Linked DNA regions of Homo sapiens. Each later gene encodes a partner of the first gene's protein in a complex. Each region holds a gene or a part of one and is shown in the gene's direction. Other genes may lie near its edges.

Region 1 (11,121 bases):
GCCTGGCAACAAAGGGAGACTCCGTCTGAAAAAAAAAAAAAAAAAAAAAGTAAAGGAATAAAAGAATGTCTACTCTACAGGCAGAGGGGTTATTTCTTGATTATATGCTAAACAAGGGTGGATTGTTTGTGAGTTTTCTGGGAAAGGGATGGGCAATTTCCCCTCTCCCCCAGTTGAGTGCTCCTCCCCTTTGTAGACCATATAGGGTAACTTCTGGTTGTTTCCATGGCATCTGTAAACTGTCATGGTGCTGATGGGAGTGTCTTTTAGCATGTGAATCCATTATAGTTAGCATATAATGAGCAGTGAGGGTGACCAGAGGTCACTTTTGTTGCCATCTTGGTTTTGGTGGGATTTGACCGGCTTCTTTACCACTGTTTGATCACCAAGGTCTTTGTAATCTGTGTCTCATGTTGATCTTTTTTTTTTTTTTTGAGGCGGAGGTTTGTTCTGTTGCTCAGGCTGGAGTGCAGTGGTGCGATCTCAGCTCGCTGCAACCTCTACCTTCTGGGTTCAAACAATTCTGCCTCAGCCTCCCAAGTACCTGGGACTACAGGCGCGCGCCACCACGCCGGGCTAATTTTTGTATTTTTAGTAGAGACAGAGTTTCACCACGTTGGCCAGGCTGGTCTCGAACTCCTGATCTCAGGTAATCCACCCACCTCAGCCTCCCAAAGTGCTGGGATTACAGGCATGAGCCACCGTGCCCAGCCCTTGTGTCGATCTTCTATCTCATCCTGTGACTAAGAATGGCTAGCCTCCTGGGAATGCAGCCCAGTAGGTCTAAGCCTCTTTTTACCCAGCCCCTATTTAAGATGGAGTTGCTCTGGTTCGAAAGCCTCTGACAGTATCTTATTATACTGTGTAGGCTGGTCTTGAGCTCCTGGCTTCAAGAGATCCTCTTGCCTCAGCCTCCCAAAGTGGTGGGATTACAGGTGAGAGCCACCATACCTGGCCCTTTCCCTCATCTCTAATTCCTGGCAACCACTAAACTAGTCTATCCTCTATGTCTATACTTTTGTTATTAATATTTCACAAATGTTAAATGCAATAATACAATAGATAACTTTTTATGTTTGGCTTTTCTTCAGTCAGCATAATTCCCTTGAAATCTATCCAAGGGAATTATGTATATTGCATGTATTAATAGTTTGTTATTTTTTTCTATTGTTGAGTAGCATTCCACAGTATGGATGTAGCATAGTTTGTTTAACCATTCACATGATGAAAGACATTTGGGTTGTTTCCAGTTTTTGGTTATTACAAATAAAGCTGCAATGAACATTTGCGCACAGGTTTTTGTGTGAACAGAGCATAAGTTTTCATTCCTGTTGGATAAACGCCCAACAGTGCAATGGCTGGGTCATATGGTAAGCACATGTTTAGTTTTTTAAGAAACTATCGGCCGGGCGCGGTGGCTCACGCCTGTAATCCCAGCACTTTGGGAGGCCGAGACGGGCGGATCACGAGGTCAGGAGATCGAGACCATCCTGGCTAACACGGTGAAACCCCGTCTCTACTAAAAATACAAAAATTAGCCGGGCATGGTAGCGCGCCCCTGTAGTCCCAGCTACACGGGAGGCTGAGGCAGGAGAATGGCGTGAACCCGGGAGGCGGAGCTTGCAGTGAGTCGAGATCGCGCCACTGCACTCCAGCCTGGGCGACAGAGCGAAACTCCGTCTCAAAAAAAAAAAAAAAAAAAAAAAAAGAAACTATCAAACTTTTTCAGAGTGGCTGTACAATTTTATATTCCTACCAGTAATGTGGATCCAGTTTCTATACCTCCTTAATAGCGTTTGGTGTATCACTACTTTCATTTTAGCATTCTGATAGGCATGTAGTAATATCCGATTTTGGTTTTAGTTTGAATTTCCCTGGTGGCTAATGATGTTGAACATCTTTTCATGTGCTTTCTTGCCTCTGTATATCCTGTTCAATGAAATGTCTATTCATGTCTTTTGCCCATTTTCTAATTGGATTTTTTTAACCTGTTGAGCGTTCAGAGTTCTTCAAATATTCAAACCTTCAAATGAAGAGAAGGCCTTTATCTGATATGTGGTTTGGAAATATTTCCTTCCACTCTAGCTTGTTTTTTCGTCCTCTTCAAAAGGTCTTTCACAGGACAAAGGTTTTAAATTTCTTTTCTGCAGGGCACAGTGGCTCACGCCTATAATCCCAGCACTCTGTGAGGCCAAGGTGGGCGGATCACCTGAGGTCAGGAGTTTGAGACCAGCCTGGCCAACATGGTGAAACCCCGTCTCTACTAAAAATACAAAAATTAGCCGGGCGTGGTGGTGCACGCCTGTAGTCCCAGCTACTCGGGAGGCTGAGGCAGGAGAATCACTTGAACGTGGGAGGCAGAGGTTGCAGTGAGCTGAGATCCGCCAAGGCACTCCAGCCTGGGTGACAGAGCAAGACTGCATCTCAATAAATAAATAAACAAATAAATAAATAAAGGCCGAGCACGGTGGCTCATGCCTGTAATCCCTGCACTTTGGTAGGCCGAGGCAGATGGAACACTTGAGGTCAGGAGTTCGATACCAGCCTGGCCAGCATAGTGAAAACCCGTCTCTACTAAAAATACAAAAATTAGGGCCAGGCGCGGTGGCTCATGCCTGTAATCTCAGCACTTTGGGAGGCTGAGGCGGGCGGATCACGAGGTCAAGAGTTTGAGACCAACCTGGCCAACATGGTGAAACCCCGTCTCTCCTAAAAATACAAAAAGTAGCCGGGTGTGGTGGTGGGCACCTGTAATCCCAGCTGCTCGGGAGGCTGGGGCAGGAGATTCGCTTGAACCCGGGAGGCGGAGGTTGCAGTGAGCCGAGATCGCACCACTGCACTCCACCCTGGGCGACCTGGCAAGGCTCCGTCTCAAAAAAAAAAAAAAAAAAAGAAAAAGAAAATACCGGGCGTGGTGGCAGACGCCTGTAGTCCCAGCTACGCGGGAAGCTGAGTCACGAGAATCGCTTGAACCCGGATGGCGGAGTTTGCAATGAACCGACATCGTGCAACTGCGCTCCGGCCTGGGCGCCAAAGCGATACTCGGTCTCAAAAAGAAAAAAAAGAAAACAGGAGAATAATGAAATTTTACTTATTTATTTTATTTATTTTTTATTTTTTTGAGACCGAGTCTCGCTCTGTCACCCAGGCTGGAGTGCCCTGGCGCAATCTCGGCTCACTGCAACCTCTGCCTCCCGGGTTCAAGCGATTCTCCTGCCTCAGCCTCCCGAGTAGCTGGGACTACAGGCGCCTGCAACCACGCCCGGCTCATTTTTGTATGTTTAGTAGAGACGGGGTTTCACTATGTTGCCCGGGCTGGTCTCGAATTCCTGAGCTCAAGTGATCCTCCCGCCGCTGCTTTCCAGCGTGCTGGGATTACAGGCGTGAGCCACCGCGCTCGGCCAAAAGTTTTAAATTTCAGTAAGTTCCAATTTATCAACTTTTTCCCTGTATAGATTGGTCTTTTGGTGTCGTCTAAAAACTATTTGCCTGGCCCTAGGTCCTGAGGATTTTTTTTAACTTTTTTTTTCCCCATAAGTGATTTATTGTTTTACATTTAAATCTATGATTCATTTTGAGTAAATTTTGTATAAGGTGAGAGGTTTAGGTTGAGGTTCTTTGGGTCTATATTCGTCCAATTGCTCCAGCATCATTTGTTGAAACGGCTCCTGATTCCATTTTTGTACCTTTCCCCCGTTCATTTCCCCTTAGAGCAGTGGGAATGTTTTTTTGTTAGTGATGATGTCATGCCTTGTGCAAAATCTGTATTAGCATCTCACAACATAAGATTTGGCTCTATTCTAACGGCATTTTCCACCACTCGATGTCCACCGTAATACTTGGCTCTCGAAGAATCACTGGGCTGGCTCCCTCACTTCATGCAGGTCTATTCTATTATCACTTACTCAGAGATTTCTCTGGCCTTTTCTTCACAGCACTTACAAAATGCGATCTATTACATATTAATTTGCTTATTTGCTTCTTGTTTTCCTATACTCCCATCCCTCCCAGAAGCTCCAAGAGAGCATACTGTTTTATCCCTAGGGCCTAGAATAATGCGTCCACGTAGTAGGTACTCAAAATTTTTTGCTTGACAGGCTAGAAAAGGTGAATAAACACAAAGCGGGAGCGAAAAGTCTACTTCTAGGTCAGGCACTCTTTGGACTTCACGCAACGTGTGAGCGCCACCTCTCGGGAAGCCAATTTGCTCGCGAACGAAGGAAGTGAGTCAGAGAACCCGGGGGTGGAGAGAAGAAAGCAAGCAGCTAACCGGAAAGGTCTGAAAAAGCTAGCGCCGGAAGTTAAACTGCAGAAAGTTGTTCCCTAGAATGACTGCCTACTCCCAAGAGGAAGCGTGGGCGAGCGGTGTTCTGCAAAATGGGCTCTCCGGCAGCGGATCTGCGCAGAAGCGTTCCGTGCGTGCAAGTGCTGCGAACCACGTGGGTCCCGGGCGCGTTTCGGGTGCTGGCGGCTGCAGCCGGAGTTCAAACCTAAGCAGCTGGAAGGGTAAGAGGTGTTCGGGATCCTGAGAGGAAAAAGAAAGGAGTGTAGTCGCGGGAGTGGGTTAGGTGAGGAGTTAGTGAAGAGATGAGTTCAGCTCTAAGAGGCGGCGAGGAGGATCGGATGGGAGGAGGGGCAGGGAGCGCCTGTGGACAAGTGCAGACCGGTCGGCGCACGTCCCACGCCACGTGGACTCGCCTTTGTCGGTGGCCGCCTTTCTCGTCAGGCCGCGACGACAGGGCTGTGCCTTATTTGTGTCTGTCGAGAGCAGTGCCGGGCACGGAGTTGGCGCTCTGTAAGTGCTTGCTGAATAAATGACGGGTGTGTGTGTCATTCATTCAGCAAGCACTGAGTGCTTACTGTTGTGTCACCGGGACCGATGTGGAGGGACATTTTTAGGGTGTATTTCTGGCGCTTTAGTCCTGTTTTCTCCTGGACAATTTATGCTTGCCCCGCACCCCATCGTGCGATTCTCCGCAGTCTTTGGGCTTTGTCTCTCTCTCTTTTTTTTTTTTTGGAAGTTGCAGAATGGTGATAAATGATTTTCTTTGCTCCTATTGACTGCTAGGCCCTGTGGCTAGGTACCATAGAGTCTCTACACAGGACTAAGTCAGCCTGGTGTGCAGGGGAGGCAGACACACAAACAGAAAATTGGACTACAGTGCTAAGATGCTGTAAGAAGAGGTTAACTAAAGGACAGGAAGATGGGGCCAAGAGATGGTGCTACTGTCTACTTTAGGGATCGTCTTTCAAGGCGAGGGGCCTCCTATCTCAAGCTGTGATACAGGGTAGGTCATGAGCGCAGTCTTCTGTAAAATGAGGGATCTGGACGGAATAGTTACTCTCTAGGCTTCCTTTCAGTATGATGTCCCGTATCAGATATTCCTAATGTCTGTAGTTCTCCCACACCCCACCGTTTATTGGCTAGTCAAAATATTCTTTGCATTGTAAAGTGTAGCATAACATTACAAGAATGGATTAATGGGTTGGGAATGCTGGGTTTTGGCCTTCATTCTGGTGCTGTGGTCCTGTTTCCTCATTTGTAAAATGAAGGGGGTTGTAAAGATATATTCTCTAAAACCCCTAATGCTATGGCTGTGGCATTAAGTCAAACTATTATTTCTTACTGCTTTGTACCGGACATCACTTTCACATTAGTAAAACTTTTCATCAGTGTAGTTTCTCCCAAGCTTGATTATTGAGAAAGATAGTGCCTTGTTTTTAACATCCTGTATCCTAGTTCCACCGCAGTGTTTGGTACACAGTAGATGTTTAAAAGAAGCTTATTAAATCAAATGGTGGCCAGGCTCATGGGGCTCACGCCTTTAATCCCAGCACTTTGGGAGGCTGAGGTGGGCAGATTACTTGAGGTCAGGAGTTGGAGACCAGCCTGGCCAACATGGTGAAACCCCATCTCTAGTAAAAAAAAATACAGAAATTAGCTGGGTGTGGTGGCACGCACCTGTAGTCCCAGCTATTTAGGAGGTTGAGGTAGGAGAATTGCTTGCCTGGGAAGTGGAGGTTGCAGTGAGCCAAGGTCGCACCACTGCACTCCATCCTGGGCGAAAGAGCAAGACTCCATACCAAAAAAAAAAAAAAAAATCAAATGGGGCTGGGTGTGGTGGCTCATGGCCATAATCCCAGCACTTTGGTAGGCTGAGGTGGGCAGATCACTTGAGGACAAGAGTTCGAGACCAGCGTGGGCAACATAGCGAAACCCCATCTCTAAAAAAACCCCACAAAAACCAAAACAAATGAAAATAAAATAAATCAAATGGGATAGAAATTATAGTCCTTGCTTTTGGATCCTTTCCCACATTGACATATTAGTTCATAGATCAGGGGACTGGGGAGGAATTGGGTTTTTACCAGAGGGAGACCTGGAGCTGACCTGACAGATTTAAACCAGCTTTATGGGATAATCCGCTTGAGACGGATGACGCTGTAGGCAAGTGATTCACTGCTGTTTCATTCCTCTACCTGCCTATCCCCAGAACCATGGCCAACTGTGAGCGTACCTTCATTGCGATCAAACCAGATGGGGTCCAGCGGGGTCTTGTGGGAGAGATTATCAAGCGTTTTGAGCAGAAAGGATTCCGCCTTGTTGGTCTGAAATTCATGCAAGTAAGTGGACTTCATTGTTCCCATTTTGATTCCTTCATAGTATAGGAGAACACTGTGATTAACCTGTTTCTCCCCGTCTTTCTTATTTAAAGTTCTCCACGGTAGAGTGAACACAAGTGTCTTGAGACCTGGAAACTCCTCAGTGCCCTAGCGTTTGGCTACATCTTGGAACAAACCAAGTTATTTAGGATTTTCCAAAATAGTCTCTGTAATAGGAGGTGCATTGCTACGGGAAAAGCAGTGCAGAGTTCCACATATGACTGCATCTCTGTAATTTCTGACTGAGAGCTGAGCATGTTTGAGTTCTTGGTCTTGAGCTTCCTGAGCAGATAATTTTAGAGAGATTTTTTTCCCCCTTTGAGACAGGTTGTTTTTTAGCAAGAAAGTCTTTCCATCATCAATTACTAGACACTAATAAATGCTTATTGTTTAGCATATATTAGGTATCATAGGAGCTGGTGGAGGAAAACTATGGTTTTGGTTTTGGGGAGGTTCTTCAGAAACAGCAGAGAGCAGATGTACCTGCAAGCTACTTACAAAGCAATCTTTTGATAAATGCAAAGGATTGATTGACCAATAACCCTTCTTCAAACAAATTCTAGAGATAATCCAAATTCTCGGCTGGGTGAGGCATAGTGGCTCATACCTGTAATCCCAGCACTTTGGGAAGCCAAGGCAGGCTGGTCACTTGAGGTCAGGAGTTCAAGACCAGCCTGGCCAACATTGTGAAACCCCGTCTCTACTAAAAATACAAAAATTAGCTGGGCATCAGGGTGGGTGCCTGTAATCCCAGCTATTCGGCAGGCTGAGACATAAGAATTGCTTGAACCAGCCAGGTGCGGTGGCTCATACCTGTAATCCTAGCATTTTGGGAGGCTGAGGCGGGCGGATCACCTGAGGTCAGGAGTTCGAGACAGCCTGACCAATATGATGAAACCCCGTCTCTACTAAAAATACAAAAATTAGCCAGGCGTGGTGGCATGCGCCTGTAATCCCAGCTACTCGGGAGGCTGAGACAGGAGAATCGCTTGAACTGGGGAGGTGGAGGTTGCAGTGACCGAGATCGCATCATTGCACTCCAGCCTGTGCAACAAGAGCAAAACTCCATCTCCAAAAAAAAAAAAAAAAAAGAATTGCTTTTGAACCCAGGAGGCGGAGGTTTCAGTGAGCCGATATTGCACCACACTGCAGCCTGGGCAACAGAGGGAGGGAGACTCTGTCTCAAAAAAAAAAAAAGAATTCCAATTCTCAAATCAAATAGGGGATAGTATGTTTTCTAAAAGGGAATCAATTTTGGACCCTTCTAGTGCATTTTAAAATTTAGTTTGACTTGCAATTTACTTCCTATGTGATATTTTAGAAAAACTGCTTTAGGGCTGGCACAGTGACTCGCCTGTCATCCCAGCACTTTGGGAGGCTCCGTCTCCAAAAAAAAAGAAAAAAAAGAAAAGAAAAACTGCTTTAATGTAAAAGAGGGTAGACTGATGTTCATGCTGAGAGGAGAATATGGTGTCCAAGGTCAAGGAGCTGGCATCTAATGAAGGTTTTCTTGCTGTATCATCCCATGACAGAATGGAATAGCAAGAGAGTGCAAGAGTGAGAGAGAGCAAGAGGGGGCTGATGTTGATTTTATAACAAACCCACTCCTGAGATAAGACATTAATCTGTTCATGAGGGTGAAGCCCTCATGACCTAAACACCTCCCATTAGGCCTCACCTCCCAACATTGTTGCATCGAGGATTAAATTTCCAACATACGAACTTTGGGGGACACATTCAGATCACAGCAGAAGGTAACATGAGATGGATGTGTTGTTGATCAGGCATTTACCATATGCTGGGCACATATGTTTTCTGATTTAGTCTTCATGCCAGCCTTGAGAAGTACTTACTCCTGTTCTCGTGGTTGTTAGTGATGAGCAACCTAAGGCTTGGAGAGGTTCAGTGATGTGCCTGATAGCATACAGTGATGCCACTGGAATTTTAACTTGAGTCTCTCTGACCCCTGAGTGCAGATACTTTCTCCTTTACATTGAATTTCCTATTAAGGATATATGGGTTTGGTGAAGAATGGACGGAAGGATAGCTGCCATGACTCTAAAGGGGCATTTAAATCTGGTGTGGAGGCAGGAAGCAAGGGAGAACTTGAGGTTCCCAACCCCCAAGCCCTTAAAAAAAGCCCGTGATCTGTTTTGCAGACTAAAGATAATCAGTTAGGGCCTGGCGTGGTGGCTCACACCTGTAATCCCAGCATTTTGGGAGGTCAAGGTGGGTGGATCATCTGAGGTCAGGAGATGGAGACCAGCCTGGCCAACGTGGTGAAACCCCGTCTCTACTAAAAATACAAAATTTAGCTGGGTGTGATGGCGCATGCCTGTAGTCCCAGCTACCAGGGAGGCTGAGGCGAGAGGATGGCTTGAACTCGGGAGGTGGAGGTTGCAGTGAGCGGAGATCGAGCCACTGCACTCCAGCCTGGGTAACAGAGCAAGACCCTGTCTCAAAAAAAGATAATTAGCCGGGTGTAGTGGTGCACACCTGTAGTCCTAGCTACTGAGAATCTGAGGCAAGAGGATTGCTTGAGCCTGGGAGTTTGAGGCCGCAGTGAGCTATGATCATGCCATTGCACTCCAGCCTGGGTGACAGAAAGACCCTGTCTCAAAACAAACAACAAAACCAACAAAAAGATAATTGGAACCAATTAATAGAATTAAAAAAGTATTCTGATAAGGGAAGGTCACCTCAGGGTCTGTTAGACTTCCACAACAAAAGTCTTCCATTTGGATAGGAAAGGACAGGGCGAGGGTTGGATCCCTACCACGGAGTGATTATATGGCCATGTAATTTTACTTTGGCAAGTGATGATAACTGGTGGCTGAATGATGGGGCTTCTGGGCAGCCAGTCTCCACATCTGTGTGTGTCTCTGATGTGTGTGATATGCGTCATACAGTGCAGTACCACAGAGCTGGAAAAACCATGGGACCCTGTTAGATTTTAACAAGCGTATATGCAGTACAAGAGAGAACACAGCCAAACTGAGTTGAAACTGCTAAGCAGATGGTTTGTTCTCTAGCTAACTTGATTCGTTCCCACATATTAGCCTTGCAGTATGAGAGGTTCTAATTCATTTTTCAGCAAAATTATTTATTACTAGATGTCATGCACTTTTGGGTGATTTGCAGATACCTTTGGTAATCACATGGTCATCACTGCTGGGCTTTTATCCTCTGAATAAACGTGAAGCATCCCTGGGTAATGGCCTGGTTTAGTTTGCTGCTCATTAAATGCCAAGACTTGCTTCCTGGTGTCCTTCTAACATTTTATTTGGGGTTTGCTCTGGGAATGGAAATTTATTGTATTGTTGATTTTCCTGTCTAAAATGAGATAGTTGAGGGCCAGGCATGGTGGGTCACGCCTGTAAGCCCAGCACTTTGGGAGGCGGAGGCTGGAGGATCACTTGAGTCCAGGAGTTTGAGACCAGCCTGGGCAACATAGTGAGACCCTATCTCTACAAATAATTTTTTAAAATTAGCCAGGTATGGCTGGGCGCGGTGGCTTACGCCCGTAGTCCCGGCCCTTTGGGAGGCCAAGGCAGGCAGATCACCTGCGGTCACCTGAGACCAGCCTGGCCAACATGGCGAAACCCTGTTTCTACTAAAAATACAAAAATTGGCCAGGCATGATGGCCGCCACCTGTAATCCCAGCTACTTGGGAGGCTGAGGCAGGAGAATCACTTGAACCCAGGAGGTGGAGGTTGCAGTAAGTCAGGATCACGCCACTGCACTCCAGCCTGGGTGACAGAGGGAGACTCTGTCTCAAAATAAATAAATAAATAAATAAAATTAGCCAAGTCTGGTAGTGTGTGTCTACAGTCCTACCTACTCGGGAGTCTGAGGCAGGAGGATCACTTGAGCCCAGGAGTTTGATTTTTTTTTAAATGAGATAGCTGGATTTAATTTTAATGTTCTGTGGTTTTATTATCAGTCAGTGCCAATAGGGAGACAACTGATATAAAATTGGAGAAGTACATTTAGTCCTGTCACTGCTCCCTTCCAGTGTGGAGAATGAATTGGGTTATAACAGAATCAGTGAGCCCAACCGCTCATGTTTTACATAGCAGGGTGGATGAGGGGAAATTAAATGGATTATATGTCCTTAGATGGTTTGGGGGTTATTCTCATTCTCTGTCCTGTTGAATAGGCTTCCGAAGATCTTCTCAAGGAACACTACGTTGACCTGAAGGACCGTCCATTCTTTGCCGGCCTGGTGAAATACATGCACTCAGGGCCGGTAGTTGCCATGGTGAGTGTGCCTGTGTGGGATACTCCAAGTATGCATTGCTTGTCATCTGTGCTAGGCTCTCTTCTAGACACTGGGGATACAGCCATGAATGAGACCAAATAGATACCTGTTTTCATATACCAGCTAATGGTTAGTGATAGGCTTCAGAAATGAAATATGCCCAGAAATGAATAGGAGTAGCAAATGATCACTTTAG
Region 2 (10,583 bases), on another chromosome or scaffold:
GGCGTGAGCCACTGCACCTGAGCCTTTTTTTCCTTTTTAAAAGAAACCAACCATCTTTAAGCGGTTTTTAAGATTTTTACTGTTTTTTGTTTTTAGAGAAACAGGTCTTGCTATGTTGTCCGAGCTGTTCTTGAACTCTTGGGCTCAAGTGATCCTTTCACTTCAGCCTCCCAAGTAGCTGGGCCTACAGGGGAACATCACCATGCCTGGCTTATTAATTTCACTTTAAAAGTCACATATATGACAGTTTTCATCCAACAGGGCTTTTTCTCCCTGACCAATCCATTAATAAGGTAACTATCCAATCATTAAAAAAAAATTCTTTTTCTAAATTATCCAATACTTTATTAAGCAAAATAAAATAATATTTAACTTTTTAGATCCCAGGCTTCAACATTATTTGCTATTCAATGAAAATAAATAAAATGTAGTGGTTTTCACATTTGTTACCACAGATTTCAAAATAATAATCTACATTCCTAAAAACTATTTACATATACAAACAAAAAAGAACATAATTAAGCTGGAGTTTTTCCATGTCATTGTCTTTGGGGTCCAAGCAGCAGAACCATGATGTAGGTAAGAGAGTACTACGGCCGATTGCCAGTGATGTGATTCAAGCTCAAGAACAAAAAGTTGAGCTGTGGGTATATTAGCTTGACTCATAAAAAGGATGCTAACCAAAGGGTCTCCATCTTTAGAGACCAAACAAGGGCAAATGTGCTATTGGTGCAAAAGTAATTGTGGTTTTGCCTTTTTTAAAAAAAATGGTAATTACTTTTGCACCAACCTAATAAAATGGCAATAGTAACGATATGGTTATTTGTAAAACAGTACTCTCCTACACATTTCAAAAGAGCCTAAGGACACTCATTGTTCATGTCTTTGAGAACAAAATAGGCTGCTCATTTATTTGGAATGGTTCTTGATGGAGGATATTCTGGAAGGCGGGAAGATCTTTCCTTCCTGGGCCATCTATCTCTCTAGGGGGTTAAACTTTGAATTGTATCTCATTTATTCTTCTCAGTGTGACTCAAACCTAGTTTCAGAGGTTAGAGACTCTACATCTTTCAAACACAATTCCTGTTGTAGAATTACTCAGTAGATAGGAACTCTTACCTGTTCCCAACTCCGTTTCAAAATTCAGCCAAGATTCCTTGATATGGGATTTCTTTCTATATTTTCTGAAATGCAGTGCCACTTAGAACACTTATTTACTATTATAATATACAATAAAATGTAATTTAAAAAACAACTTTGTAAAATAAGATATTTGTAAGAGCAGTGGTTTTTTTTATATTTGGTCATGTTGTGTGGGGCAAATACAGCTCAGCTTTGGCTTTACTATATTCCTTTTTTAATAATAAAAAAGCAAAATCATATGAAAATTTTCTTACATATAGATCTATTTGTAAAAGCAAAAGAAAATTTATTTCAAGTGTGTAAGGAAAGCGGAAATTACTCAATTGGTTATACATATACTTTTGGATATTTCAATTTCTGTAACGACTGACATCCAGTGAAGCCTTCTTTCAATTTTCTAACATTAATACAAAAGTCATCAAAATGTATAAATGTAAGATGCTTCTAAAAACAACTGTCACATTTAACGTTTTGATTTAGTAATCAGGCCATGATTTTTTCGATTCTAATTTGTTTCTGTACTTTCTCTTTAATGGGGGAGGGGGTGGGCTTCTAAGTCTTCCTCTTGAGTCTTTGTACAATAAAGTGAGCTATTTGCTTCTATTTAGCAAAGCTGGATGGGGCATATCTCTGCATTTGATTGGTTGGTTTTTAAGGGATTACTCCTCTGGAAAGACACTGTCTCATATTGCATTGCTAGCAGCGTGGTCTTAACTGTGGTTAAACTTTTAAATTGAAAATGAACATTTACCATCAAAGAGAACACAAACTTCAGGACTCCTATGTTACACAGATCATACACACCATATTGACCTGTTTTGATAAGAGTTCTGTTTGAATACAATCCTAAACACCATATCCAGAAATAACAACTGTCTCAATGGCATAAATAGGAAATTTGGGGTTCCTCATGTATTACAAAGAAGCCAATAAAACTTAGAATAAATTCCAACTATACAAATAGGCTTCAATAAGATTAACAAAATCTGAGGATGACAGGCAAGTCAACAAGTTAAATAAATTATACTATTTATACCCAGATAAAATAAAACAATGACTTCTAACTTTTATGGTGCATTTCCCACCTAATCAGAGTAAACATCAGACTTCAAATTCCATTTATCATTTTATCTGAAAGAATTTACTGAGTAAAATCCTTAGTTGCAGGGCTTTACACTTGCAATCCATCAGGTTGCAATATTAAAGTTACTACAGCTTCTTCCCCAGTGTAAGCATTCTGTATGTGTTTTATTTACATTGTCACTTTTTATTTCCTCCTCAACTTCGTATGTCTAAGAATGAAACTGGATTGCTATTATGCAACAGTATTTTAACTTTGCAACATACATACTGGCTTATCTCTCCTTTGAACTCCTGTTCCTGAAAAATAAACATATGTATCCAGAAAAACTACCTTGAGGCGTGTGGGGAAGAGTGCAGACATGTAGAAACAAACACTAAAATACAGTCGTGTGGAAAGGTAAGGATGTATCTGTCCTCGTTGACAACAATCCCCGTGGTTTATTAACAGCCACAGGCAGCCAACTTAGTGCCGTAAGTCGGTAACCCAGTGGGCATCGGGGCTTTAAGGTCTCTTAAAACTTAATGTGATTCAAAAATACCCAAGGCAACCACGCCGAAAAACCAGGAGAAAGGGCTCCAGTTAGAGCCTCCTTGGCAACCCAAACCGAACCGAATGACTCAGGTGGACGATTAGAATAAACCGTGCGCCGTTCTCTTTCACTAGGTCTATAAAGCCCAGAAATTATGTTTGGTCCAGAAAACCAGGAGTTATGAGCACCTTCCTTTTCCACCTTTTAATATTCTACATATCTAGCAACGGTTCTTAATCCATGGTCTTCATTCATTTATTGCCTAAACAAGATCTTGGGTGTCTCTTGGTGATCACTTCTTCCAAGCTGACCTAATATGACAGCAAAGTGAAAAGCCTCTTCGTGGGAAGGGTCGCGACCGCGCGGTAAGTCATCCAAAAGTGGAAGCATCTTGCTTTTACTGACTTATGTATACGAGGGTGGCGATGGTGGCGGCCTGACAGGGACGAGGCCGGAGGGGAAGGGGCGCGCGGGCTGCTGGGCAGCCGCGGTGGGGGTGACGGGGGCAGCCACGCTCCCCAGCGCGAGCCGCCGGACCCGGGACCCGACGAGCCCCTCCCGGCATTGCACCCTGACCCCTCTCCTCCTTCCAGGCCTTTCATCTGCCCTCCCGCTGGGCAGCCCGCGGTCCCCGGACCTCAAGCCGCCCGCCTCCTTCCGCAACCCCGTCGCGCCGCCCCGCGAAGCCCTCGGCCGGGCGGGGACCCCGACCCGACCCCTCCGGCCGCGCCCCTCCCCCTCGCAGAACGCACCTGCGGCCCCGCCCCCGGCCGAACGCTGAGGCGGCGGCTGGCTGGCAAGGCCGGGCGGCTCGGCCCTCGAGGCACAGTCACCTTCCCTTCCCCCGCCATTCCGCCCACCCCCCTCACTCAGCCACAGAGCAGCCGCCGCGCTCCTCAGCCGCCCCGAAATCTAAAGGGGTCCGTCTCCGGCACCACTACCAAATGGCCGAGCCTCCCTGGCCGGCTGCGCAGCCCGCCCATTGGTCCCTTCCCCCCCCCGCCGCCACTGCCATTGGCTGTTGCCCGGAGACCCTCGGCGGCGATTGGCTCGGGCCGCTGCCGCTCGTCCATGGGGCCGCAGATCCCGCCTCCACGGCGATCAGGTTAGTGTGCGCCGCGGGTGCTGGGGGCTCGAGAACCGAGCGGAGCTGGTTGAGCCTTCAAAGTCCTAAAACGCGCGGCCGTGGGTTCGGGGTTTATTGATTGAATTCCGCCGGCGCGGGAGCCTCTGCAGAGAGAGAGCGCGAGAGATGGAGATGGGCAGACGGATTCATTTAGAGCTGCGGAACAGGACGCCCTCTGATGTGAGCATTTGCCAAAAATATCTCTGTCGGTCCATTCTCCTACTTTGTGTGTGTGTGTGTGTGTGCGCGCTGGGGGGAGGCACTTTTTTTGGGGGGGGGCGCCCGGGAGGTGCGGGTTTGGGGGTCGGACTGCAAGCGAATTGGCAAGGCTGGGGGGTTGCAATGCCATCCGAGCATGTTCCGGCTGCCGCCGCCGCTGCCCTTGGTGTGTGACTACCTGTGCGTGTGCTCCCGCGTGTGCGAGTGTGGGTGCGAGAGTGTGCGTGCGAGTGTGCACCCATCGGGGGCCGGCGGGCGCACGCGTTTGGGTCGGAGAGAATGAGGCGAAATCACCCTCGGAGATCGCTGCTCCCGTGACTCCGTCTGGGGGGAAGATTAACGAGGGAGGAGGAGGAGAGGGGCTGCCTCCTGGATTTAACAACAAAAAAAGGGGGTTTTACATTTTATAAATGTATCCCCCCTTCCGCCCCCCTCCCGCGCCTCCCCCCTCCCTTTCTCTCGCTCGCTCGCTCGCACACACAATAAGTTTGGGGCTTCGCGAGTCCGGTTTAGTTTCTGATAAATGTGGGCCGAGGCCCCCGGGGAGAGCGCGTGGGGAGGGGGCTGCAGCGGAGTTGGGAATGGCTGGAGTTTAAAGTGCGTCTTCATTTCTTTGCAGTGATGAGGCGAGAGACGGGGGAGCCATATTTGTAACTTTGTAGTGTTCGTGAACGCGCCCTTTCTCTCCCTCCCTCCCTTTCTCTGCCTCCCTTCCTCTCCTCCTCTTTCTCCCTCACTCTTTCCACCCCACCTTCGGGCCAGATGCTGATGTTTCTTCCTTTCCTTCCGAAGGGAGGATAAATTAGAAGGAGGGGGAGGGATTTTCGAACGTGCTAAGGCACAGATAATCCCCGCGTCTCCCTGCCTCCAGCGATCGCTGGTGCAAGTTGCCCAAAGGCTACGTCCCGGTGCCCCCTCGCCCCAGCTCCTTCCGGCTTCCCCAAGATGCCAGCCTTTGGGCCCTGGTGCCCCCCAGCTCGAACCCCCGGCCCGTCTTTCTCAGTGCTGGGCTTGTCGGCAGCCATTCGGCGCCTGCTTAATAAATGGGCACGGGAAACTTTGTCAGGACGCGAGCTGCCCGGAGCTGGCGCCCGTGGTGGGTACTGGCTGGGTCCACGTTTATGCGGGCATGGCAAACACGCAGCTCTAGGATGGGAGTTTGCCCGCTAGCCGCCGTTATTGATTGGGCAGCGGCGGGAGCACGGCCGGAGGAAACTTACACGGGTGGGAATCGCGAGGCTCGAGCGAAAGCTTACCCCTGAGGAGGGGGAAGGTGAGGGTGGGTGACTCGAACGCTGGTTTTTATTTCTGCCTCCCTCTCGCTTTCAAACCTGAGTGTTTTCGGCGAGTTGGCGGCTCTGGGGCGGAGACCCTGGCCAGCTCCCCTCTTGGCCCCTTGGGGGGACCGGGGACGCGCTGGCGGGAGGACGCCCCCAGTCTCGGTGGCCCGAGCTCCATGGAGTTGGGAGTTTGGGCAGCACCGTGCGCTGGCCTGTCGCCCCTCTAGCCCGTTAAACCCGAATCCCGGCGAAGGCAGGCCTCGCTTCCTCTTTTCCCTAGTTCCTCCCCCAAACCTGAGTGAGACTTTTGAAAACAAGATCCTTTTTGTCTACCCCCTCCCCGCCTTAACGCAGCTGTGGACTGGAGACGTGCGAGTGCCTTATGGCGCGCAGGGCGGGGAGGGGGCGGCCGCGGGAGAGGAGGGGGCGCCGCCGGTGGAGGCCGGAGTTTCCGCGCACTATTTGCGGGCGGTTTGCCTCTCTCCGGCCGCTTTCGTCCCGGCCGGGACCCGGCGCCTAGCGTTTGGGGGCTGGGTGTGGTGATGGGGGAGGGGGCCGGGGCCGCGGTCTTCCCGCGTACTTTCCGGAAGCCCCCTGCGCGGAGGGGGAAGGGCGCCAAGCGCGGGGCCGGGGTCGCCGCGGGTGGGTGCGGGGGCGCGGCTGGCCTGGCGAACCCGACCGACGCTGCCGGCCCCCCGGGAGCAAGCAGGAAAGCGGGTCGAACCGGCTCTTTAAACTTCCACGAGTGTGTGTGTGTGTTGGGGAGGGGAGCGCACCGCGCCGTACTGGGAGCGATTTCTCACGCTTCGCCCCCTCGCCTCCCAGCCTCGCGGCCCACACGCCTGCCCCCTGCCTGGAGGCGGGGTGGGGCGCGGGTGGCGGAGGAGGGGGCACTTTCTGCACATTTGCGGGGGAGGGGGAGAAAGCTAGCGAAAGAGGGACAAAAGGGTTGGGGGAGGAGGAACTGTATTTTTTTAAACGTTCTTAAGACAAATGGCTCCCGGAGCGCGCCCCCTGCGCCCCTCCCCGCCGCGCTGCCCCTGGGCCCCCCACACACCCACCTTCGGCACCTCTCCCAACTGGGCTCCGGGAGCTGGTGGCCATGCCGCGACGCCGAAATAGGACGAGCAGCCATGTTTCCCGGGGCTCGCGCCGCACGCCCCGCCCCTCCTCCCCGGCGCGGGGCGCAGGGCTCGGAATGCGGGCTCCGGGCTCCATGTGGCGCGGGGCGCTGGCAGGCGGGCGGCGGGGGTGCAGTACGCGCGGGGCCGGCCTTGTGGCTTTCTAGGCTGGTTTTGAGTTCCAGGTGTTTTATTTATTTATTTTTATTTATTTATTTTTTTTAACGGCTAGGCCCACTCGGGGCTGAGCCCGAAGGGCGCCGAGGCGTTACTGGGGGGCAGGAGCCGCCTCCAGGGCCCTGCGCGCCTGTGGCACGACTGCCGGGCGCCGGGCTGCCATTTTGTCACCGTGGCTGTTGTCGCTGTGGGGGGCGGGGGGAGCGGAGTCTTGCGCCATCACCCCGACGGCCTCCCGCGCGGAGGAGGCAGGGGGAGCCGGCTTTGGGGACCCCCAGTTGTGCTATGAGCCCCGATGGGGGTTTCCGCCCCGCGCCAACGGCCTGAGGCTGTGCTGGAGAGTCACGGCGGCCGCGGCGCCGGGAGGACGACGATCCTCTGTGCAAATGCCCCCCCCCACGCGCTCCCTGCCTCCCCCGCCTCCTCTCCGGGGTTTCGCCGTTCCTCCTGCAGGCGCTCAGACGTAGTTAAATGTGGCCTTAAGGACTAACCGATCGCTCTGGTGTTTGCTCTTTCGGCGGAAGTGATAGAGTAAGGGGAACATTAAACATGAGGTTCTTTTGGCGGGGGTGAGGGGTGTCGCGCACGCGACTCTAGTGGCCCTGACTGAAGCCAAGGACAGCAGCCTGTTCCCCGGGAGGGAAGAGTTGTCGATCCGTTGGGGAAACGCCCTCCCGGGCTGGGCTCTCCGGGAAGGTAGGTCGAGCTCCGTGTTTCAGGTGGATGTTGCAGCGCCCTGCAGGCTAGGGGAACCCTCCTCCTCGGTCTAAACCTGCTCCTTCCCCCTTTTATTTTTGCCTGGGAGAAGGCAGCTACAATAGTAATGAGATCCTAAAGCGAAAGAGAGGGATGAAGGTTTGCTTTTGAAAAAAGTAAACCGCCTTTCTCCGGATGTTGACTTAGGAGCCAGGCAATTCGTCGCGTCGGGTCCTCCGATGCTGGCATCTCTGAGAATTTTAAAAAGCCGATATAGGTGCTGGTTAAGCACCTCACGAGCTGAACTCTGGTATCTGTGCAGAAACTAACTTTCATGGCAGTGTCCAGCAGAGGCTGCCTTGGAAGCCAGCTTTTACTTTGACCTTTGGAATACATCGCATGATGTTTTCCAGGCTGACTTACTGCCTAATTGGGTTCAAGTAGCATGATATTAACTACAGTTTATGCAAGCCAACCAGGAACTCGCAGGCAGAAAATTGAGCCTGAGTTCCCCTGTGGTCATAGTCAGTTGAGTTCTGCTGCTGATAGTAGTTTCGAGTCTGAGGGGCTCCATGATGAAGATGGGCTTAGGAATTACACAGACCTGGGTTTGAATTCCTCCTGCCACAAGGAGGTAGGATACGTTTACCTGCCCTTGTGACCTTGGGCTGGTGAGCTTAACCTACCTTTTTGAAGCTTTGTTTCTTCACCTGTAAAACGGAATAATCCTATTTAATCAGTAAATGATGACAAAATTGGTTTGATATGGCCCTCAGTATATGCTGTCTATATGACAGTTTTAGTCTCGGAGACATATCAGGGTGCTTCCAGGCATTACTTTGAGCTCCTCCATGGTTTAGGATAATAACAATATTAGCTAGTGCTTACATAGCAACCACGCTGTGTCTGGCACATTTCTTAAGTGGATTACATGTATCAACTAATTTAGTCCCCACAACAGCACTATGAGGTAGGTATTATTATTATCATCGTCATTGTGCATATGGAAATTGAGGCATACAGGGGTTATCATGTGACCAGTGAGTGGCAGAACCAGGATTCAAACTCAGCCAGTCTGCATACTCAACCTCTACACTCTACTGCCTCCTTTGAAACACCCTTTTTTTCTTAAGATACTGTAAGGAAGAGCTTTTTCTTCTCCAGCTTTGGAGTGGTGCCACCGTAGAAAGAGAATGAGTTTTCTATTATTGAAGACGCTGAAATGAAGAGTGGATAGCATCCTGGTTGGAGATATTAGAGGGCCAGGAGGTTCAGGACCAGGGGCTGTGGATTATCATTTTATGAAGCCTTGCACTGAGTTTGCTTTAGCACATCACAGTGGGTTAGGTTGAAGTGGATCTGGCCTTCAAGGTGCTGGGGGACACATTTTGAGTAAGGAGAAGACAAGCAGGAGCTGCTCAGGCAGTCTGCATCTGCAGCCAAAAAAACTCAACATAACTGGCATGTCTTTAGTATCTGGGACATAGTATGCTCATAGCACCTCATGGATCATCTCACTTAATCATCCCAGCAACTCTTTAAGGGTAGGCCAAGCAGTGCAATGCCACCCCTGTTGTGAGGATGAATCATCTGATTTTTGGAGAGGTTGAGCAACTGGTAGGTGGCACAGCCGGGTTCTCGCACTGCAAAACCACAGGCCCCTTTGGTGGACAGAGATTCCGAGGATTGGATAGTCCATTGGGTCCATGGCCCATTACCAGAATCACGTGAGAGGCATGTAAAATGCAGATTCCTGGGCTCCACCCCAATCACAGGAGTACCACAGCAATCACCAAACTATAACTGAGCTCCCAATTTTTGTACAGTCATGAGCTAAGAATTATTTGTACATATAAACGTTGCAGTCAATTTGATGGTATGGAACACTCTTTGAATCCCAATGACTTGAAATGTTATTCTCCCAAAAAATAAGAAATCCACTTGTCTCGTTAACAGATCTCGTTACAAAAAAAAAATTGTACTCAATATATTCTGAACTTTATCAATAAAAGAATTGTGGAAATGTGTTAGATTTTTCTCTTGTTATAAAAGTCCCTATGTAGTGTTCTTAATTTTGGCTCTTGATAAAGTTTACTATCTGCCCCCTTTGCAGAAGAGGTTTGCTGAAAAGGTGGTTCAGTAGATTGGAGGGTGGGCCCCAGGGATCTAGTGTTTTGCTTTGTTTAAGCAAATGGCAAGCCATATATTTGGGTGGTACTCTCAGGGTCTTTTTAAGTCCTTTTATGTGTTCTGTGCCCTGTAAGTAATTGGTGCCTAGTGGAAATCAGCCTCAACCCAGGAACCTCCATAGGAAGAGAAATTATCCTTGTTACTGGTTTAGTATGAAGCACTTCTCGTCTAGAGTTCTGTATAGCCAGCTGAAATTCTTCGTTGTGTACTCAGAACATGTCAAAGCCTTCTGTGTATCTTGTAGTTGAATGGTCACTCTTAGGTTCTAGATGTCATCTCAGAGATAGAAAGAGCTTTGGGTTGCAACGGTTAGAGCTTTGAGGCTTGAACCAAAGGCGGGGCAGCTGTGCACCCAGTGGCTCACATCAGCCTTTCAGAGCCCAGATCTTTGAAAATGACAGATAATCCTGGAATCTCTAGTTTTTGGCCTGCTGCTTTTCTACCATGCGTGTTTCCTGGGGAATGAACCAGCAGCATAGTGGCTTTGAGTTTCAGAAGTTTTTCCCTCTAGCGTCTTGTGCCTGAGCTAATGAACGGAAGGAATGGTTATAAAATTGGCCAGGTCAAGGGGAGGAGGAGATAAATTCAAGGGGACAAATCCTAGTCCCCATAACAGCAGCCTGTGTTATGACAGCACACCACAGCCCCAATTCCCTCTTTCCTGCTGCTGCTGCACCACCAGCCTCTCAAGGTGGCTTACTCTAGACTTACACAGTTGGCCATCTTTCTTTTTTTTTTTCTTTCCCCATAGCAGTATGAGACTTGTTTCCTTTTTTATTTATTTATTTTATAATTTTTGTAGAGACGGGGTTTTGCCGTGTTGCCCAGGCTGGTCTCAAACTCCTGGACTCAAGTGATCTGCCCACCTTGGCATCCCAAAGCGCTGGGATTACAGGTGTGAGCCAGCGTGCCTGGCCCCCTTCTTCAATACCATTGGAAAGACATCTGCTTGAGCTTTCAGAGCTGTCCATCCCAGAGCTTGGGTCCAAATTAATTACATCACATTGAAATAAAAAAC
Region 3 (10,104 bases), on another chromosome or scaffold:
GCTGTTTCCTAGATCTGTTTCCATCTGAATATTTTTGGTTGGTCTGGCCCATGCTAAAGGTGGTACTCAGCTGGACACAGCACTGCAGTGTAGTGTGGGCAGTGGGATCAGGCAGACTCAGGACTCAAGTGCCCAGCAGGGGCCCAGCTCATAGTGGCTGTTTTTTTTTGTTGTTGTTTATTTGTTTGTTTTTGTTTTTGTTTTGAGACGAAGTTTTGCTCTTGTTGTCCAAGCTGGAGTGCAGTGGTGCGATCTCGGCTCACTGCAACCTCCACTTCCCAGGTTCAAGCAGTTCTCCTGCCTCAGCCTCCTGAGACGCTGAGATTACAGGCACCTGCCACCACACCTGGCTAATTTTTTATATTTTTAGTAGAGACAGGGTTTCACCATGTTGGCCAGGCTTGTCTCAAATGCCGGACCTCAGGTGATCCACCTGCCTTGGCCTGCCAAAGTGCAAGGATTACAGGCGTGAGCCACCGGGCCCAGCCTTGGTTATTTGTTTAATAATTGTTAAATGAATGAATCCCAGGCTGGGCACAGTGGCTCCTGCCTGTAATCTCAGCACTTTGGGAGGCCAAGGTGGGAGGATCACTTGAGCCCAGGAGTTTGAGACCAGCGTGGGCAACAAAGCAAGACTCCCAGCTCTACAATTTTTTTTTTTTTAATTAGCCAGGCATGGTGGCAGTGAGCTATGACCATGCCACTGCACTCCAGCCTAGGTGACAGAGTGAGACCCTATCTCAAAGAATCCCAGAAACCATGTTTTTACTGGTGGTAGACACACCATTATTCCACTCCTGTTGAGCTTGTCCACAGGGACATTCAAAACACAGCCACAGCTGGGCATTTATCTATTTCATGTACTGGGGCTCTTCATAAAATTTCATTTAAAGAGGTTCTTAGGGGCTGGGCATGGTGGCTCACGCCTGTAATCCCAGCACTTTAGGAAGCCGAGGTGGGTGGATCACGAGGTCAGGAGATCGAGACCATCCTGGCTAACATGGTGAAACCCCGTCTCTACTAAAAATACAAAAAAGTAGCTGGGCGTGGTGGCAGGCACCTGTAGTCCCAGCTACTCGGGAGGCTGAGGCAGGAGAATCGCTTGAACCCTGGAGGCGGAGGTTGCAGTGAGCTGAGTTTGCGCCACTGCACTCCAGCCTGGGTGACAGAGCGAGACTCAGTTTCAAAAAAAAAAAGTTCTTAACGCTATCAAAAAATAACTTGGAAACCACTGTGGTGTACATAAAAGTGGATTTTCCTTGCAGTACCTTCTGCAAGTGGCAGATATTGGACATCTTACAGCCCAATAATGAAACCAGGTAATAACCATGTTAAAATTCCAGCTTCCCACAAAGGGCTGCACACCCTGGCAACTAAAAAGCATTGAACTTTTTGTCTGCTGTGCAGGATTTGCCCTAAAGTGAGTTCACCCCACATAGTGAGACCTTGCTTCCTAAGGACACACTGAGGGATATCTTGACCTTCTGTGCTTAGAAACTGCAGATGTCTGAAGGGGTACACACCTGGCCAGACCCCATAGAGTGTTTCAGAATTGCCCTCCTCCCCACCCACCAGGCCAGTCCATCGTGCTCCCCCAGGCTATGTGGGTTGAGCAAACAGCAGCAGTTGCCTTGGGGCTTGGTTTATTGGGGTAATAGCTTTCCTTTTGCCCCTGAGACCTGGGGCAGTATGCCCAGAACCCCTCCCTCCTGCACACCCCACAGTAGGCACATTCTCCCACTGGCAGCAGATGTGTTTTCTGGCAAGTAGAGAAAATGGCTTTCCTTGCCCTGTGAGAGGTCTCATAAGATCCAGCCATAGCCAAGGCCATGTTTGTCACCTCTGGAGGCCTGGTCAGTCCTTCTGTGGGCACAGAACATTTCTCTCCCACCTAAGTTAGGACCTGCATCCCTGTTTGGGAGCATGTGGAAGCCAGGCATCCCAGATCCAGGAGGTCATCCCACTTCCTGGGCGATGCTACACCAGATAAGGGCCTGTCCTCTCAGCTGCAGCAGTCTTGCAGTGGAAGTGCCCACTTGTTCACATGAAACAAGTTTCATAGCAAGTAAGTAGGGGTCAGGCCAGCACTGAAACCCAAGTCTGGCTGAACCAACTCACCTGTTCATACTGACTTGCTCAATTTTCTGTTACCTCTAGTGGAGTGTGAAGGTAGGTTATGGAGCTGGGGTTGGGGAGTGTCACGTCTCTCTGGGTCCCTGTCTTTTAGGTTCCAGTGTGTGTTCCAAGTGCTGCCAAAGTGCCTCAGCCCAGAGACACCCCTGCCTAGCGTGCTGCTGGCTGTTGAGCTCCTCTCCCTGCTGGCGGACCACGACCAGCTGGCACCTCAGCTCTGTTCCCACTCAGGTAAAGCAGGGTGGGGCGGGCGTCTAGACTGCTCCTGCAGATCAAGGGAAGGGTTGGGGTGGGAACAGGGTCAAGGGCCTCAGAGGGCTTCTGCAGTATGTAGCCCACGCTCTTTATGAGAAAGGGCACCCTGAGTGAGAGGTGCGCTGTCCTTTTCAGAAGGCTGCCTCCTGCTGCTGCTGTACATGTACATCACATCACGGCCTGACAGAGTGGCCTTGGAGACACAATGGCTCCAGCTGGAACAAGAGGTAAAAACTCCAGAGCCCCTTCTGGACACTGTCCCCACCCCATCCTAAGAACCAACAGAATCTCCTTTCTTTCCGCTGAGGAGAAACGGAGCTTTAATTCATTTTAGTAACAAGAGTTGATAAAGCAACTAAAGAGGTAAACTCAGTTTGGGGGCTGTGCACCACACAGATGCAATGCAGACAGGACTTGGCAGAGTTGCCTGATGACTGATCCTGTCTTGGCTTTGGGACGTGGGGGCAGAATAGGGGGCTGGAGGCAGGTGGGTTGCTGGTGACACATGAGTGCTTGTCCTGGGTCTTCCCTGGGAAGGTCCCACACCACTTCTTGGACCCCATTTGTGCAGACAAACAGTTGCTGAAGCAAGTGAACTCTTATAGAAGCTTAAGAAAACCCTCGCAGGGACTGGTCTCCTTCTGCCCAGGATGGAACCAATCTGTTCTTGTTCTAGGTGGTGTGGCTCCTGGCTAAGCTTGGTGTGCAGAGCCCCTTGCCCCCAGTCACTGGCTCCAACTGCCAGTGTAATGTGGAGGTGAGTGGGTAGGGGCCAACAGCTGGCAGCTCTGGTGGTAAGGGGGCCCCGTGCAAGGACTGTAGGCCCCACTGCAAACCCCCTCACGTGAGGTGGCTAGGCTGAGCGGATTGTTAGGGTGCAGGCCATGGTGGCACCAGGCCTCAGTCTGCACCCCCCCTCTCTCAGGTGGTCAGAGCGCTCACGGTGATGTTGCACAGACAGTGGCTGACAGTGCGGAGGGCAGGGGGACCCCCAAGGACCGACCAGCAGAGGCGGACAGTGCGCTGTCTGCGGGACACGGTGCTGCTGCTGCACGGCCTATCGCAGAAGGACAAGCTCTTCATGATGCACTGCGTGGAGGTCCTGCATCAGTTTGACCAGGTGATGCCGGGGGTCAGCATGCTCATCCGAGGGCTTCCTGATGTGACGGACTGTGAAGGTAAGCCTGCCAGAGGCCATCCTGCCCAGCCCCCATGGCTTCTTCCAGAGGTTCCCCAACAAGTCAGATTCCTGGGTGTCCCCTCAGCAGGCCCCCGCCCACTGCAGCCTGTTCCAGCACTGGGGCCATTTTCTTTTATCTTCCTGCCTCAGTTCTTCTCCAAGCATATTGGGATGCCTTTTGCATCTATCTGTTGAGTGTGCCTGGCAGAGCCACGGTTTTTCCAGAAATAGCCGTGTCTGAATTGCCTTTGTATCACTTTGTTTGCAGTAGCTGAGGGAGCAGGGCCTGGGTGTGGAAGGGACTGGTTAGTTCCTGCGGACGTTGGGGGAGGAGAGGTGGGACCTGCCCTAGGCCCTGGCACCTTTGGGCCCTCACCAGGAACCTCTCCTTTTTGTCTCAGAGGCAGCCCTGGATGACCTCTGTGCCGCGGAAACCGATGTGGAAGACCCCGAGGTGGAGTGTGGCTGAGGCCCTGAGTGTCCAGCCACATGGTGGCACCAGCACCACTCCTTTCCTTACCACATCAACTGATTAAAGCAGTGACCAGCAGGAACTGCCCAGAGAACTGGCTGGCCTTGTTTCCTGAGTCTGATCTGTTTGGCGGAGTGGGAGGGGTGGAGCAGGACCCGGACCCTGAGTGGCTGGGATCCTTCTTCCTGTCCCTGGCTGTTGCTGAGCCCGTCCCCATGGTAACTGATCTGCCTTGAGGAAGGAGCCCTGCCCTGCCTGTGGAATTGTCCTGAGTCATTGCTTTGGGCTGGGGCCATGGGAAGAAACCATTGTGTGGCAGGGAAGGAGGTGGCTCTTGGCCCAGGCCTAAACCAGGAAAGCCTGGGAAACTGGGACCCACAGGTGGGCATGAAAGGGCCGCAGCAGGGGCTCCCAGCAGTGTGTAAGACCGGGAGCTGGTCTGGCACCACTGCCCTGGTCCTTCCAGCTGCCTGTCACTGGTATGATGGCCCCGGTGCATTGTGCCACCAGCAGGCCACAGCTGTGGATCTTGGAAGGCCTCTGGGGTCCCCCGGGAGCAGGGGAGTGGGTGTGGGGGGGAACGGATGGTGGTGAGAGGGACAGACCAGGCAGGCTGACGAGCAGGGCGGGCCTGGCTCACGTGGGCCTGTAGGCGGGCCCACGCCAAGTTTCACTTCCCGCCACTGCTGCCAGCGAGAGCCGCGGGAGAGTGTGCAGCCGAGTCACTACTGCCTGCCTGCCTGCCTGCTACGGTGAGTGTGGCCCCCACAATGGGATGGCGCAGGGCAGGAGGGCCATGGGTTCCCCCACCCCAGACTAAGGGGGCACTAGGGGAGGGGCCGAGTCATGTGAAGAGGGAGACCCTCTCAGACAGTCGAATGTGCTGGTCCCACTAAGGAAACCACCTCACCCTCTCCAACTTCCTGCCTGAAAATGGGCCCTGGAGCTCGCAGACAGGGCAGGATTGTGCAGGGAAGGCCTGAGATGTGCTTCTGCCCACCCCCTACCCCACTCCCTCCCCTTCGGATCTTAACACTGGGCACTCACACACCCACCCCATGCTCCTCTCCAGGCTCAGCAGCAGGTACGTACCCAACCATGGGCTCGCAGGCCCTGCCCCCGGGGCCCATGCAGACCCTCATCTTTTTCGACATGGAGGCCACTGGCTTGCCCTTCTCCCAGCCCAAGGTCACGGAGCTGTGCCTGCTGGCTGTCCACAGATGTGCCCTGGAGAGCCCCCCCACCTCTCAGGGGCCACCTCCCACAGTTCCTCCACCACCGCGTGTGGTAGACAAGCTCTCCCTGTGTGTGGCTCCGGGGAAGGCCTGCAGCCCTGCAGCCAGCGAGATCACAGGTCTGAGCACAGCTGTGCTGGCAGCGCATGGGCGTCAATGTTTTGATGACAACCTGGCCAACCTGCTCCTAGCCTTCCTGCGGCGCCAGCCACAGCCCTGGTGCCTGGTGGCACACAATGGTGACCGCTACGACTTCCCCCTGCTCCAAGCAGAGCTGGCTATGCTGGGCCTCACCAGTGCTCTGGATGGTGCCTTCTGTGTGGATAGCATCACTGCGCTGAAGGCCCTGGAGCGAGCAAGCAGCCCCTCAGAACACGGCCCAAGGAAGAGCTATAGCCTAGGCAGCATCTACACTCGCCTGTATGGGCAGTCCCCTCCAGACTCGCACACGGCTGAGGGTGATGTCCTGGCCCTGCTCAGCATCTGTCAGTGGAGACCACAGGCCCTGCTGCGGTGGGTGGATGCTCACGCCAGGCCTTTCGGCACCATCAGGCCCATGTATGGGGTCACAGCCTCTGCTAGGACCAAGCCAAGACCATCTGCTGTCACAACCACTGCACACCTGGCCACAACCAGGAACACTAGTCCCAGCCTTGGAGAGAGCAGGGGTACCAAGGATCTTCCTCCAGTGAAGGACCCTGGAGCCCTATCCAGGGAGGGGCTGCTGGCCCCACTGGGTCTGCTGGCCATCCTGACCTTGGCAGTAGCCACACTGTATGGACTATCCCTGGCCACACCTGGGGAGTAGGCCAAGAAGGAAAATCTGACGAATAAAGACCCCCGCTGCCCCATAGCACTGAGTGGTCAATTGGCTCCTACCCTTCTTGGCAGCACAGACCTCTGCCCACACCCAGGGACCTGGGGAGGAGGGCACAGTGTTTGTCCCTCACTTTCCCTAGCAGGATGGTCAACTATCTGAGCCCAGTAAAAGTAGGGAAAACACAGAGAAGCCCAAATGGATGGAAAGAGTACAGCCTGATTCCAATTCCAGCAGCCGAGGCCAGGAAGAAAGGGGGCAGCAGCTCCAAACGATTGCATTTATTATAAACAAGTGTACAGACCCTAGACTCAGAAACACAACAGATTTGAGCTAAGACAGCTCTGGTGAAACAGTAATAGAGGGAGGAGGAACACGAGGTATTCATGTCTGGGCCAGAGCTGCCATCCAGGGCCCCACACCCCACCTTTGGTCCAGATGGCCCATTGGCCCAGGTGTCCCTGCTGCCAGAACACCGTGGACTGGGGTACAGGAGTTGTTGCATATTCCATGAGGCTGGTGTCGGGAAGCAGGGACTCACAGTTGCCAGGTTGTCCATCTCTGAGCCAATTTCCCTCCACAACCCAGGGGTTTCAGTCTCATATCAACTATCATGTTTGAAACAGAAAACAGGCAAAATGTTTGGCTAAAATAAAATGAAAACACTGCAGGGAAGAGAACTGAGTGTGCTGGTGGACAGGAGCCCTGCTCACCTGTGGGAAGGGCAGGGCCAGCAAGGGCAGCAGAGCTCCCTGGGGGCAGCTAGGCTGTGTGTGCATGTGGCCCTCCAGCTGGTCCCAGGGGAGATGCGGGGACAGGGGACAGTCCAGGCAGACAGGTACAGCTGAGTAGGGCTCTGCCTGAGGTGTTCTGGCATCAGGAGGCTGCCTGATCCCCAACAGGCATGACAGGCTCCAGGGAGCAATGGGACATCTGCCCAAAGGATCAAAGTCCAACTTGGCCAGATCCCAAGCTTCGCCTGCATCATGTCCCTGGCTCTGCAACGGGTACCCCCAACTCCGGGGACGAGCCATGGCCTCAAGCAGCAGCTGGCTACGCTGCCGAAACCAGGACACATCTGCATCACACAGAAAGCTGCGCCACCCTGGTGTGACAGGCCCTACTTGGTCACCCTAGGGTAAGCTGGAGAAGAACTCCAGATGTGCCCTGGAGAGGCCCCCACCTCTCAGGGGCCACCTCACAGGGTGCCCCCCACCACCCCATTCTTTGAGTTTGGCTTGAGATTTTAGGAAGCATAATTTCAGGTGAGGAAGAGAACAAAGTCTGGTCCCAGCCCACTCTGGCAAGGATTGTTCCCCACCTTGTCAGCATCAGAGGAAGCCACATATACAGGCAGGACACACACAGCACACATGGGGCGTAAGGAACCGTGCCTGGACACACACAGCACACATGGGGCGTAAGGAACCGCGCCTGCACACCACTCACGCACACACACAACATAACCAAGTGGCAGCCAGAGAGGCCAGGGAATGCTCAGAGGGCCGCCTTCGGGGCATCCATGTAGGCCGGGTTGTAAGGAGGCTGGCTGGCGGGGTAGGGCGCGGCTGCTCCTCCTGAAAGCAGAGAGGACCCTGGTTGGCTGTGAGCATGGTGGGCTGCCGTGTGAGTGGCAGGCAAGCAGAAAGGGGCAGAGGCCTGTTGAGTGATGTAGTTTGGGATGGGTGCCCGAGGGATGCTGGCAGAGACTCGGGAAGTCGGGCAGGGCTAGAGTTGGCAGGGGCACTCACCAGCCAGGGTCTCGTGGTAGGCCGGTGGGCCCATGGGCTGGGCTGGGTAAGGTGGTGGGTACTGCATTGGGTAGGGTGCTGCTGGCATCCCTGGCTGAGGCGGCATGGTGTGGTAGCCCTGGTAGCTTGGTCCAGGGTAGCTGGGCGGCACACTTGGAGGCTGAGGATAAGGGGCATGCACCACAGTGGTGGATGTGGTGGTGGTGACAACCGCTGCAAAGAGAATTCCAGTCAGGACCCTCCTCCATCTCCCCAGGTCTTGAGAGCCAGGCTTGCCACCCATCCCTCCAGCTTAGCCAAAGCAGGGCCTGGTCAGCTTCCCTTACCACCCCAGGGGGTCACAGTGGGGCAGGGTGGGCACGCTTACGACGTGGTCGGCGGCACGTCTTGTAAAGGCAGCAGCAGGAGCAGGTGAAGCAGATGATGATAGTGACGACAGACAGCACAAAGATGGTCAGGCCAACGGCCAAGGTCGCTCCGAACCTGCCAAAGAGCTAGACGTGACCCGGGGCACCTCGCCCCTCCCCAGACCAGCATCCACACCTTCCCAAGGCATGCCCCTCTTGCCAGAAGGGGTCTGGGCAATACAGTTATAGCTACTTCCTTGTCGGGTGGCCTGCACCTGTTTCAATCTGTTTCCTCTTGTGTAAACTGGGGTATATGTGAGTCCCTGTAACTGTCTCTCCCTGGGTCTCCCCCGCTTGTCCCACCCTCAGAGGCATGGGAGGAAGCTCTTCAAGTCCCATGCCACACACATACATCTATCTTGTCCACCTCACAACCAACTGATCAGCAGATGGGTATAGGGCACATGCCACAAGCCAGGCACTGTGATTTGAGTCAAAAAACTTAACAGTGGGCAAGACAGCCAGCCCTGGCCTCTGGGAGCCCACAGTCCAGTGTAGGAGGCAGACAGTGAAGATAACATGGCTCACAAAGCACAGGGTGAAGACTGAGAGAAGCCCCAGGAGGGCAGAGGCCAGTGTGGCCAGAACAGGAGGCCCCCATTGTTCCCCTGCACTCCACAACAGCCCCAGGGCAGGGAGGCTGGCCCCTGAGTGATAAGGACAGTTGCCTCTGCCTGCAAGCTTGCTGTATGCCAAGCACCGTGCCAGGGGTCACACACACCCCTGGGTCCCCCACCTCTGACCTGCATGGCCACTTCCACAGGTGAGAGGGCCAAGAGCCAAGGGGAGGACACAGAGGCCTGGAGGCAGGAGGCCAGAGGGCCTGCCCTTTGAGAAAGCAGGCCCTGGGCTGGGAAGCTCACCAAAATTGACTTCTAGGAGGGGGCAGTGGCTCATGCCTGCAATCTCAGCACTTTGGGAGGCCGAGGAGGGCGGATCACCTGAGGTGAGGTGTTCGAGACCAGCCTGGCCAACATGGTGAAACCCTGTCTCTACTAAAAATACAAAAATTAGTCGGGCACGGTGGCGGGTGCCTGTAATCCCAGCTACTTGGGAGGCTGAGGCAGGAGAATCGCTTGAACCCGAGAGGCAGAGGTTGCATTCAGCCAAGATCACGCCATTGCACTCCAGCCTGGGGACAGGAGCAAAACTCTGTCTCAAAAATGAAAGAAAAAAAAAAAAACCTGACTTCCAAATGCAGACAGAGCCCCTTACTAGCCACCCTGCCGTGTTTGCAGAGGCCAAGCTTCATTCTTTTTCTTTTTTAATTTATTTTTTGAGACAGGGTCTCACTCTGTTGCCCAGGCTGGAGTGCAGTGATATGATCACAGTTCACTGCAGCCTCCACCTCCCAGGCTCAAGTGATTCTCCCACCTCAGCCTCCCCAGTAGCTGGAACCACAGGCATGCACTACCACATTTATTTTTGCAGAGACAGGGGTCTCACTATGTTACCTAACTGGTTTCCAACTCCTGGCCTCAAGCAATCTTCCCTCCTCGGCCTCTCAAAGTGCTGAGATTAAAACTGTCTCGTGGCCAGGGTGCGGTGGCTCATGCCTGTAATCCCAGCACTTTGGGAGGCCGAGATGGGCGGATCACAAGGTTAGCAGTTTGAGACCAGCTTGGTCAACATGGTGAAACCCCGTCTCTACTAAAAATTAGCCGGTAGTCCCAACTACTCAGGAGGCTGAGGCAGGAGAATCGCTTGAACCCAGGAGGTGGAGGTTGTAGTGAGCCAAGATCGCACCACTGCACTCCAGCCTGGGGGACAGAGTGAGACTCTGTCTCAAAAAAAAAAAAAAAAAAAAAAAAGTCAGCCTTACATTTTGTACTGGATGATAAAAGATTTTAAAAA

The links.
Region 2: NME1 (region 1) and ANP32A share a complex: the UniProt entries of both Homo sapiens proteins name them as parts of the SET complex.
Region 3: NME1 (region 1) and TREX1 share a complex: the UniProt entries of both Homo sapiens proteins name them as parts of the SET complex.

The regions. Positions count from the first base shown.
Region 1 is NC_000017.11:51,149,157-51,160,277, forward strand, and holds the start of NME1 (nucleoside diphosphate kinase A), read left to right. Parts: upstream 1-4,402; 5' UTR 4,403-4,506; intron 4,507-5,068; exon of another isoform or gene 5,069-5,217; coding exon of another isoform or gene 5,218-5,288; intron 5,289-6,494; coding exon of another isoform or gene 6,495-6,498; coding exon 6,499-6,624; intron 6,625-10,823; coding exon 10,824-10,925; intron 10,926-11,121. Other genes in the region: NME1-NME2 protein, read left to right, coding at 6,499-6,624, 10,824-10,925. UniProt on the Homo sapiens protein: Major role in the synthesis of nucleoside triphosphates other than ATP. The ATP gamma phosphate is transferred to the NDP beta phosphate via a ping-pong mechanism, using a phosphorylated active-site intermediate.
Region 2 is NC_000015.10:68,814,177-68,824,759, reverse strand, and holds the start of ANP32A (acidic leucine-rich nuclear phosphoprotein 32 family member A), read left to right. Parts: upstream 1-3,864; 5' UTR 3,865-4,008; coding exon 4,009-4,062; intron 4,063-10,583. UniProt on the Homo sapiens protein: Multifunctional protein that is involved in the regulation of many processes including tumor suppression, apoptosis, cell cycle progression or transcription. Promotes apoptosis by favouring the activation of caspase-9/CASP9 and allowing apoptosome formation.
Region 3 is NC_000003.12:48,461,518-48,471,621, forward strand, and holds TREX1 (three-prime repair exonuclease 1), read left to right. Parts: upstream 1-4,712; 5' UTR 4,713-4,792; exon of another isoform or gene 4,793-5,112; 5' UTR 5,113-5,138; coding exon 5,139-6,083; 3' UTR 6,084-6,128; downstream 6,129-10,104. Other genes in the region: ATRIP (ATR-interacting protein), read left to right, coding at 2,228-2,364, 2,524-2,615, 3,065-3,145, 3,314-3,566, 3,970-4,037; SHISA5 (protein shisa-5 isoform a precursor), read right to left, coding at 7,590-7,669, 7,844-8,056, 8,211-8,326. UniProt on the Homo sapiens protein: Major cellular 3'-to-5' DNA exonuclease which digests single-stranded DNA (ssDNA) and double-stranded DNA (dsDNA) with mismatched 3' termini. Prevents cell-intrinsic initiation of autoimmunity.